2 separate regions of the Homo sapiens genome follow, and region 2 is linked to region 1. The links come from fine-mapping of genetic effects on gene expression. A gene starts in region 1. The other region holds a variant in brackets. All regions are shown on one strand. Distances are between the middles of the regions.

The links. PIP is the estimated chance that this variant, and not a neighbour inherited with it, causes the effect. A credible set is the group of variants that fine-mapping cannot tell apart.
Region 2: its variant is the best candidate, but not a certain one, in a credible set for the expression of PABIR1 in tibial artery (GTEx, PIP 0.53).

What each region holds. Positions count from the first base shown.
Region 1 is chr9:68,777,922-68,782,314 of GRCh38, reverse strand. PABIR1 (PP2A Aalpha (PPP2R1A) and B55A (PPP2R2A) interacting phosphatase regulator 1) reads right to left here and starts at 2,250. Exons shown (of 1, transcript NM_138333.5): 1 at 1-2,250. The coding sequence starts at 2,150. The coding sequence ends at 1,287. The region is part of intron 2 of PIP5K1B (phosphatidylinositol-4-phosphate 5-kinase type 1 beta); the gene reads right to left. RefSeq lists silencers at 1,990-2,229, 2,347-2,761 and an enhancer at 1,514-2,342.
Region 2 is chr9:68,949,712-68,954,104 of GRCh38, reverse strand. All of the region lies in intron 14 of PIP5K1B (phosphatidylinositol-4-phosphate 5-kinase type 1 beta), which reads right to left. It overlaps LOC101927069 (a long non-coding RNA gene), which reads left to right. Exons shown (of 3, transcript NR_110647.1): 3 at 1-1,017. Among named protein-coding and RNA genes, the nearest start is that of PRKACG, 62 kb to the left of the region's middle. RefSeq lists enhancers at 3,023-3,642, 3,643-4,262. The variant C/T (reference allele first, on the strand shown) is at 2,174.

The sequences.
Region 1 (4,393 bases):
CCTATGTGACTCTCCACTAATTTTCTCTTGCAAATCATCACCCCTTAATTAACTGACATCCCCAAGGCAGTCAACTCAAGCTGTAGCTTTAACCACAGAGGTTAAACAATTCACAGTCCTGTTGTTGCTGTCAGAAACCCAAGTTACACTGTACCTTTGTCTAATCAATGGTGCCCTAGTTTGGTGGGAGATGGAGAGGAAGGGACCTGTTGGCAAGGAAACAGCTGCTTCCTTCCTGAACAAGGGAAAACCAGTAAGGTGACAGATGGGCAGAGCAGAAAAGTAGCCAAAAATTGCTGTGGCTCCTGTTTGGCAATAATTTCTGGAACTGAGGCACAACTGAATATTTTAAAGTATATCAACAATTGAGAGAGTATTGTTTACCTGAGTGCGCCAAAGTTCAACAAGCCTTCCCACACGTTTCCCACATTTGAAAAACTTTTAAGTTTGCAGTAGTACAAAGAGCTTAGCCTTAGCCTATGTATAGTGGGCAAAGACTGCAAGGCACTGTCCCATTTCACTTTAGGATTACACCCAAGCAAATGCACTTTCCGGTTAAAAAAAAAAAGGAAAAAATTTTATTTTCTCTATAGTAGTTATAGTTGTATGACTGACTAGAATTACTATTAAAATCTCATTAAAAATGTTTTTCTTAAAAGTTTACTTTTATATACTTAATTTGAAAAGATTTGTTCAAACTTTTATAATTTGTTCTTTAATCATTCCCCCTCCCATCCACTTCAGTACCCAGAAAACTAAATATCCAAGAATTCCTGGGTAAAACAGACAACCACTAGATAGATATAACTAACGTATTTTTTTAAGCTGTATAGTTCTTCATCAAATGGAAATCGGCAACCACTGAAAATAACATTAAAAATTAGTGTGGGCATGAAGTATGGAATTTTAAACATCAGTTTACTATGCTGATTAAGTCAACATTTATATTTTCATCAGAACTTAATAATCCCATAAATAAATAGAGCTCTCAGTTATTTAAAAAAATCAAGGGATAACATATGTATTTAGACATATTAGCAGCGTAAAGATGTATGCTTCAACACACTTATTGGGGAAACGTCTGAAAATATTACTACACTGAATTCAAGGGTATCCAAAGGAACCTGACATAGAAGTTCTCTAGAATAACATCATTTCAGGGAATTTCAAAAAAGAAAAGGGGTCAAATAGGAAATAGCCTCAAATTAATTGACAAAGTTCAGTGTTTGCCCCAACTAGATTATTCTCTCTCTCCACTGCAAAAAGAAAGTCTCAGGATGAGTGAATCACTTAGACGAAAGTTCATCTAGTGGAATAAATGGAGAAGCCGCTTGGGCAGGTGACACAGGAGAGTCGGTGGTAGTGCTGACTTTCGCTGGTGAGTTACAAGAAGATCCGGCACTGCTGCTGTTTCCATCAAGGGTATCCGAAGATACACACACACCAGGATCTGACAGCTGTGCAACGTCAGAAGAAAGCATGTTGGTGATGCCCTGGAAAAATCTCTTTGGCTGATATTCAGTTTCCATTTCACATTTTCTTTTCAATGGTCCAAGAACACTTGGTCTAATGCAATTGATGGGGCTCTGGCTTCTCCGGGTGGTAAATCGGGTCGTTGGGCTGGGAATAGGGCTTGGAGGCAATCCGTTGCTACTTACAAAACTTTGCAAGGATGGCGAAAAACACTGCTTCCCAATTCCCCGAGTGGGTGACGGTGCTGGTGACACAGGAATGAAATCGATGCGCTTGGGGGAGGCGGATTTCTCCACGTCGTTGTCACTCAGGCTGAAACTTTCCTCCCAGGAGTGGCTTATCTGCATTGCGGTCTGCACCTCCCGTTCGTGGACCGTCTCTCGGTTGATCAAGTCCATGCCCTCTTCTTGTTTGATCTGGTGCAAGCGGCTGCTGTGCATGCGGACAGGGGAGGCCGGCAGCAGCAGGCCGTGGCGGCTCGGGAACGTTGTGCTGTTCCGCCTGGCGCTCGGCGCCTCGGCCTGGAACACCGGCGAAGTGTCACTGAGGCCGTGGATCAGGGGGGCGCTGTTAGACCTCCTGAGGCCCCCGCCGCCGCCGCTGCCACCGCCCTCCGCCGGGCTCCCGCCCGTACCCGGAGGCAGCTCCAGGTCTAGCTCCATCTTCTCCTGAGCCATGTCGGGGGCAGGGAGGCGGGGGAGGTGCTCAGTCAGGGACCTAGGATTCCCATTCCCCGCAGTCCAGGGCCGCCGCCGCTGCCGCCGCCACCGAGAATCTGTCAGCGGGCTGGCCCCTCTGCGCATGCGTAGCCCTTCGCGCAGGCGCTCGCGATGTCCGTACTCGCGGCGCCTGCTTAATGCGTAATATGTGCGCGGCAGTGGTAGGGGAGGGGCGAGGAGTGGTCGGGCCGCTAGTCCGTATATTCCTTCGGCAAATAGCTATTGAGCGCAAGCTCGCGTTGACGCATGTCAATAAGATTGTCATATTCTGGATTGCATACTCATAAAACAAAGCCCTGAAAGAGAGGCCCATGGTGATGTGGGGCTGTATGACGTGGAGTGGCGCTTGGCCTAATCAGGGAGGGCTTCCTCGAGGAAGGAACAATCTCCTGAAATCTGAAGAAGTGGGCGAAATGGGTGCGATGTAGAACTTTGCAGGAAGCGGGAAGCAACGGCTACCCAGCCAGTTGGCAGGCGGGAACCAGGAGGGGAGGAGAAAGTGTGGCCTGGAGTGGAGAGTGAGGGCTGGCCTGACGTGAGGTGGTGGACCAGACCACATTCTGGTCTTTATCTTGAGAACAATGAAAACTTAAAGGGTTTTCAAGCATGGGTGTAACAGCAACTGAAAAGCTCACTGGCCTGCAGTCTGGAGAATACATATTGGGAGATTAAAACCTTACAGAAAAAAGGCCAGAGAGGATGGTCATTTGCACTAAGGTGACAGTGTGGCAGTGGAGATGGAGAGAAAAGTAAATCTGAGAACTATTTAGGTTAGGGGAAGAAGCCAAAACAGAGGATGGTATTGCTATTGATTTACAGTCATAGTTCCAGCACAAGCATATGTGTGAAGTATGAAGGATTAAACCAGTAGGTCCTCACATTTTAAAAATGAAACCACAATTCTTGGCTCATGTAATTAATATAAAACCTTGATATCTCATTAAAAGTGAGTTTATTTGTTCATTTATTCAGTCAGTCAAGGTTTTTTTTTTTCAGCATACTTACTATGTGCCAAACACTGCTAGGAAATGGGCCCTAGTATGAACTTTTAATTCTTACTGAGGGGAAAATAGAGAAACGCAGGCTATTTTCAGATAGTGGTAAGCCTTAGGAAAAGTAAGATGGTGTGATGGAGCACTACTGATAGAAGTCAGGGGACAATTAGAGTTGAGATCTAAATGACAAGAAGCAGTAAGTCACGTGGACATCTGGGGAATGAGTATTCCAAGCAGAGAGAATAGCAAGTGCTAAGGCCGGAGGCAGCCATGAGTTTGATGAGTTAGCAGAAAAAGAAAAAAGGGCAGTGCCGCTGAAGCATAAGAGCGGGAGTGTTAGGAGAGGGTAAGAGTTGGATCTCATTCTGAATATGATGAAACGCCACTGGAGGGTTTTAAGCAGGGGACTGATATTATCTGGTTTATGTTTTAAATATCACTTAGGCTCTGTGGAAAACAGGCTGAAAGAAGACCAGAGTGGAGGCAGAAGGATGAATTCAGGACCTATGGCAACAGTACAGATAAGATTCTTGGACTAGGGTTGTAGCAGTGTCAATGGGGAGAAGCAGAGAGACTGAGGATATGTGTTGAGTTAGAACAAATAGGATTTGCAGATGGATTAAATTTAGATTGTGAAAGAAATAGATTATTCGAAGGGGACTCATAGCTTTTTTTATTTAAACTGGTGAGATGGTAGTATTATTTACTGAGAGAGGAAAATAGCACATTTAGAGTTGTAGAAATTAAGAGATCTGAAGCAGAAGAACACAAGGTGGAAAGAACCAACATTTTCTAAGTGCCTACTCCCTGCTAGGCACTTTAAACACTCCATAATCCCACTTAATCCTCACTGCATAGATATTGTTATACTCATTTTACGAAGGAACGATTGAGGTTCAAAAATTGCAAAAGGCACTACAGCCAGTACACGGAAGAACAAAGATCTGAACCAATTTGAATCAAGGACTCATTTCAAAAACCTGTATTGTTTTTTCTGAATTTCACATGGATTAAAGAGAGAATTTCGCATGAATTAGAGAAGGATGGCTAATTCTGAGACGAAACAAAGGTCTAAAACCAAAGTTGGGAAAGGCAGAAGGAGATGGATTTGGGAGACAAGGCAACAACAGAACCTAATAGCATGCTGTGCAGAGGATGAACAGGAGACACAAATGACTGAAGTTCAACTGTAAGTGGCTGAAAGAA
Region 2 (4,393 bases), 170 kb before region 1:
AGGATTTTATTTTTTTTCTCCCTGCGGAAAACACAGAACAGGATGTGTGGACCCAGGGACACCAGAAGCAATTGAGGTAAAAGAAAGAGAGGAAGTAAATATGTATATACTAGATGCTAAGACACCTGTTCCTGCCAGATGTCCCAGAAGGCTGACAGCCAGGCCTTTCTCCTCCAAGCAAGAAACTGGAAGCATCTCCTATAGGGAGTCTGACCAGCTCAATAGCTTGCTGGTCAACAAGCTCTGCTCAAGTGCTTAAGTTTCCAGTCAGGGATTTTTTTTTTTTTTTTTTTTTTTTTAAGACAGAGTCTTGCTCTGTTGCCCAGGCTGGAGTACAATGGTGCAATAACAGCTCACTGCAGCCTCAACCACCCAGGCTCAAGCCATCTGAGCCTCTGAGTAGCTGGGACTACAGGTGTGTCACTGCACTTGGCTAATTTTAATTTTTTTTGTAGGGATGGGGTCTCACTAGTATTGCCCAGGCTGGTCTCGAACTCCTGGGCTCCAACAGTCCTCCTACCTCGGCCTCCAAATATGCTGGGATTATAGGTGTGAACCACCACACCTGGCCTCTAATCAGTTTTCTAGTCTCCCACTCAAGCCTTAGTTGAGCAGACAAATGAAGATTTCCAAAAATCTGAGGAAAACCTCCAGTATAGAACATGTAGACTACAAAGAGAAAAAGGCAGCCTGGATGAAAACCGAGACTAAAAAGGGAGAAGAAACAAAATTCAGGGCAAAACAAAAAACATAATCCTAATATCTTCAGGAAAAAAGAGAAATTACAATCATGAAAAAAGGAAAGATTGCTAAAAAATAAAATCTCAGCGAACAAAAAAAGAATTCTTATAAAACATGGTAATGGAAATTAAAAACTCAGTGGAAGGATTAGGAGATGAAGTTGAGGAAATCTCTCAGAAACTAGGACAGAAACATAAATAGATGGGACTGAAGACAGAAAAGTAGAGAAAATTGGAAGACAAATCCAGGATATTCTGTATGCATAAAAGGAATTACAAAAAGGAAAAAGAAAATAGAGAGGAGGAAATAAGAAAATAGTTTAGAAAATTTCCCCAAACTCAAAACATGAGTTTGCAGGTTGAAAAGGTCCCCTGAGTGCTTAGCATGCTGGCTGAAAATAGACCTGCACCAAGGCCTAGCATCATGAAATACTGAGACTCTGAGAGAAAATCAAAGAGTTTACAGGTTTCTGCAATAATAATAATAATAATAGGAAGAAAGAAAGAAAGGAAGGAAGAAAGGAAGGAAGGAAGGAAGGCAGGCAGGCAGGCAGGCAGACAGGCAGACAGGCAGGCAAAGAAAGCAAGCCATTTACAGAAGATCAGAAATCAGAACAGCACTGGATTTCTCAATGGTAATTGGAAACTAGAAGACAATGGAGCCAAGCCTTCACCATGTTGAAAAAAAAAATCCAAAATATTTGCAATCTAGAATTCTATACTAGTTAATCTATCAATCAAGTGTTAGGGTTAGAATAAAGACTTAAGACATGCAAGATCTCAAATATTTTGCCTGCAATGAATATTTTTCATACTGGAGGATTTTCTTCTGGAAAATGTGTTCCACCAAAATGAGGGAGTAAACCAAGAAAGAGGAAGAAGCAAAGAGGAAGATGTAGGAGATGACAAACAACGGAACTGATACAGACAAGAGGTTACTAGAATCCCCAGAATGATGGAGCAGAGAGGCCCCAAAGTAACATTTGTACATCAGGTCCTAGAGGGCAACCAGTTCAGTCCAGGCTGGTCAGAAGTGTCTGGCGGAAACTTCTGCAAGACAATAAAAGGAACAGAACCTCATGCACTTAAATGGTTTGAGAAGAAATGAAGACACTGGTGGAAAGCTTAGGGTTCTATTAAGGAAAAATACACAGAAAACTAAGCAAACCGAAGAACAAGGCAGTCATTTATTACAATAAAAACAAAAAGTCACACAGGAAAGGAAACTGAAACATAGTATATGACACTATTCACAAAGCCATAATAAAACACTCAATATCGATCGGACTACAGTCAAGATGTAACTATACAGGGAAACTGGAAGGGTGTAGGAGGAGGGGGTGGGAACAGTACACATACGTGGTATGTGTCGGGTGGAGAAAAGACAGCTAAATCTTCGTCTTCTATAGTGGGCAGTTATTAGCTAATGCCTA[C/T]ACCCAATAGATCAAGCAATAACAATATAAGCATGTTATTTAGAAAAACCAAAGTAATTGCCAAAGGAATCAGCTCAAAGAGTTGAAGGTGATTGCACATGAAGACGTAGGGGGAGGTGGACTACGGCTTGCTCTTTTTCTTAACACATGTTACACGACTATTTGTTAAACTCTGGGCATAGAGTTTTGTTACAAAAATAATTTATAAATTTTAAAATCAATCAATACCTTTTTTAATAAATAAAAGGGCTGGATGACATGATGGCCAAAGTTCCCTCTCATCTCCAAAGCTCCGTGATTCTTTCAGGATGAGTTTTACCACTTAGGTTGGAAAGGCAGGAGGGTGAACAGGGAAAAGGCGAAGGCTCGACCGGTTCCCTAAATGAGCTTTGACCTGGCCTTCGAATACCTGGCCTCTCTCCTGTCACAACTCAGTGACCACACAGAAAGCAGCAGGTGAGGGTGGTTGGAATTAGGAGGACACCAACTGAAATGCACTCATACATAAATAAAAGACAAAAAATCTTCTCCCAGACAAAGTGCTTAGTCTGAACCATTCTTCCAGTGTGATGAGAAGCAATGAAAGAAAAGACAGAGAAACTCTACCATTATTTTTTTCCCCATGTAGCCTTCAGGATGAAATTTGCATTATAGCCAAATCCTTCATTTTGAAAACAAATCTGGTCATTTTTAAGTTATTTGTGACCTTCCACACACTAATTTTTAATAGGGCTGGCTGGAAAAATAATGAGCTCCATTACTTCATTACACATGTCACCTTTATTACTTTATCCTTGAAAACAGGTTATTAAATGATTCCATTTTAGATTAATATTATTCTGAATGGAGAGTTTAACATTGTCTCCTAGTTCCCTCCTTACACTTACCTAATTCTCCTGCACCCATAACTATCATGAACTAAATGCAAAGGCAGGTTGTGGTAGAGGCGTTTGGTCTGTCTGTGGGGAGGCTGGGCCAGCTTGGTGCTGTGAAGTGAATGAGTCCTCAGCAGCAGGTTTATGTTAGTGGACTTCCCCAGTGAAATTCCTTCCCTCCCAAATCAACAAGTCATTTAAATTACAGGAGATAAGGCTCACTACTGTGGTGATGACTCCACAGGTAACAGAAGGATTAAACAGAGGATGTCGGGACCAACTTTCTACTTGCCTTGGAAGAAATTGTTTGTTACTCTTCCTGTATGTTTGAAGCATATCAGAGAAACAAAAATGAATCTTGGGATTCTTGCAGACCCCCCAGCTAGAGGACCTCTGGGTGGAGGAGACATGGCCAGAACTGGTAACATGAACCTGGAAGTTCACCTGTTACAGATCCCAGGCCCACACAGGGAACACTACTTTGTACACAACACAAGAGCTAGGCTCAGAAGGCAAATGGAAATACAGTGGTTGGGCCAAAGGGAAACGTCTCGAAGAGAGGCCATGGCAGGGAAGGCAGCTGAATGGGTATGGACAAGCTCCTGGGAAGGGTGCTGCCCTGTGTGAGGCTGCTGGCCAGGGGCTCTCTAGGGTGAGACGAAATTTGCATAAGGCCAGCTTCACCCAAGAGTGCAACTGTCACGTGGACAAAGCAAACAGCAGAGTGAAATGGTCAGGGTGGAGAGGGGGACTCTCAAGGCTCAGAAGGACCAAACTGACCTTTAAGCAAAGAGGGGGAGTCAGTGGAGGCCAAGGAATCTGAAAGAGAATTACCCTGCTTGACTACAGAACCAAGGATCTCTGTAGACTCAGGGAGGTCACGAATAGCTGCTGGGCAGAAATGTATGTTGGCTTCAGGTCAGAGGAACCACACTGGGAAGCAGGTTTGGGGCTGGCTGAAGCATTTCCCAGAGGTGTTGCTAACCTAAAATACCTTTGTTAAATGAAGTTTAGCCTAAAGCTGCCTCCTTACATATTTAAGTTTGGCCTAAAGGTTTTTCTGTACATCGATAACTATACAACAAGCGGAAGTGTAAACCAACCATAGTTTACATTTGTGCCAACCACTGAGTCTTGGCCAATCAGATGTAGCCAACTGTTCGGACCGTGTTCAAATAAGGCAAACGCCGAGCTCTGACCAAGCCAGTAGTTTCTGTGCCTCACTTCGGTTTTCTGCACGCCACTTTCCTTTTGCCGTCCATAAATCTTCTTCCACCACGTGTCGGCGCTGGAGTCTCTCTGAATCTGCTATATGATTCTGGGGGCTGCCCGATTCACATATTGT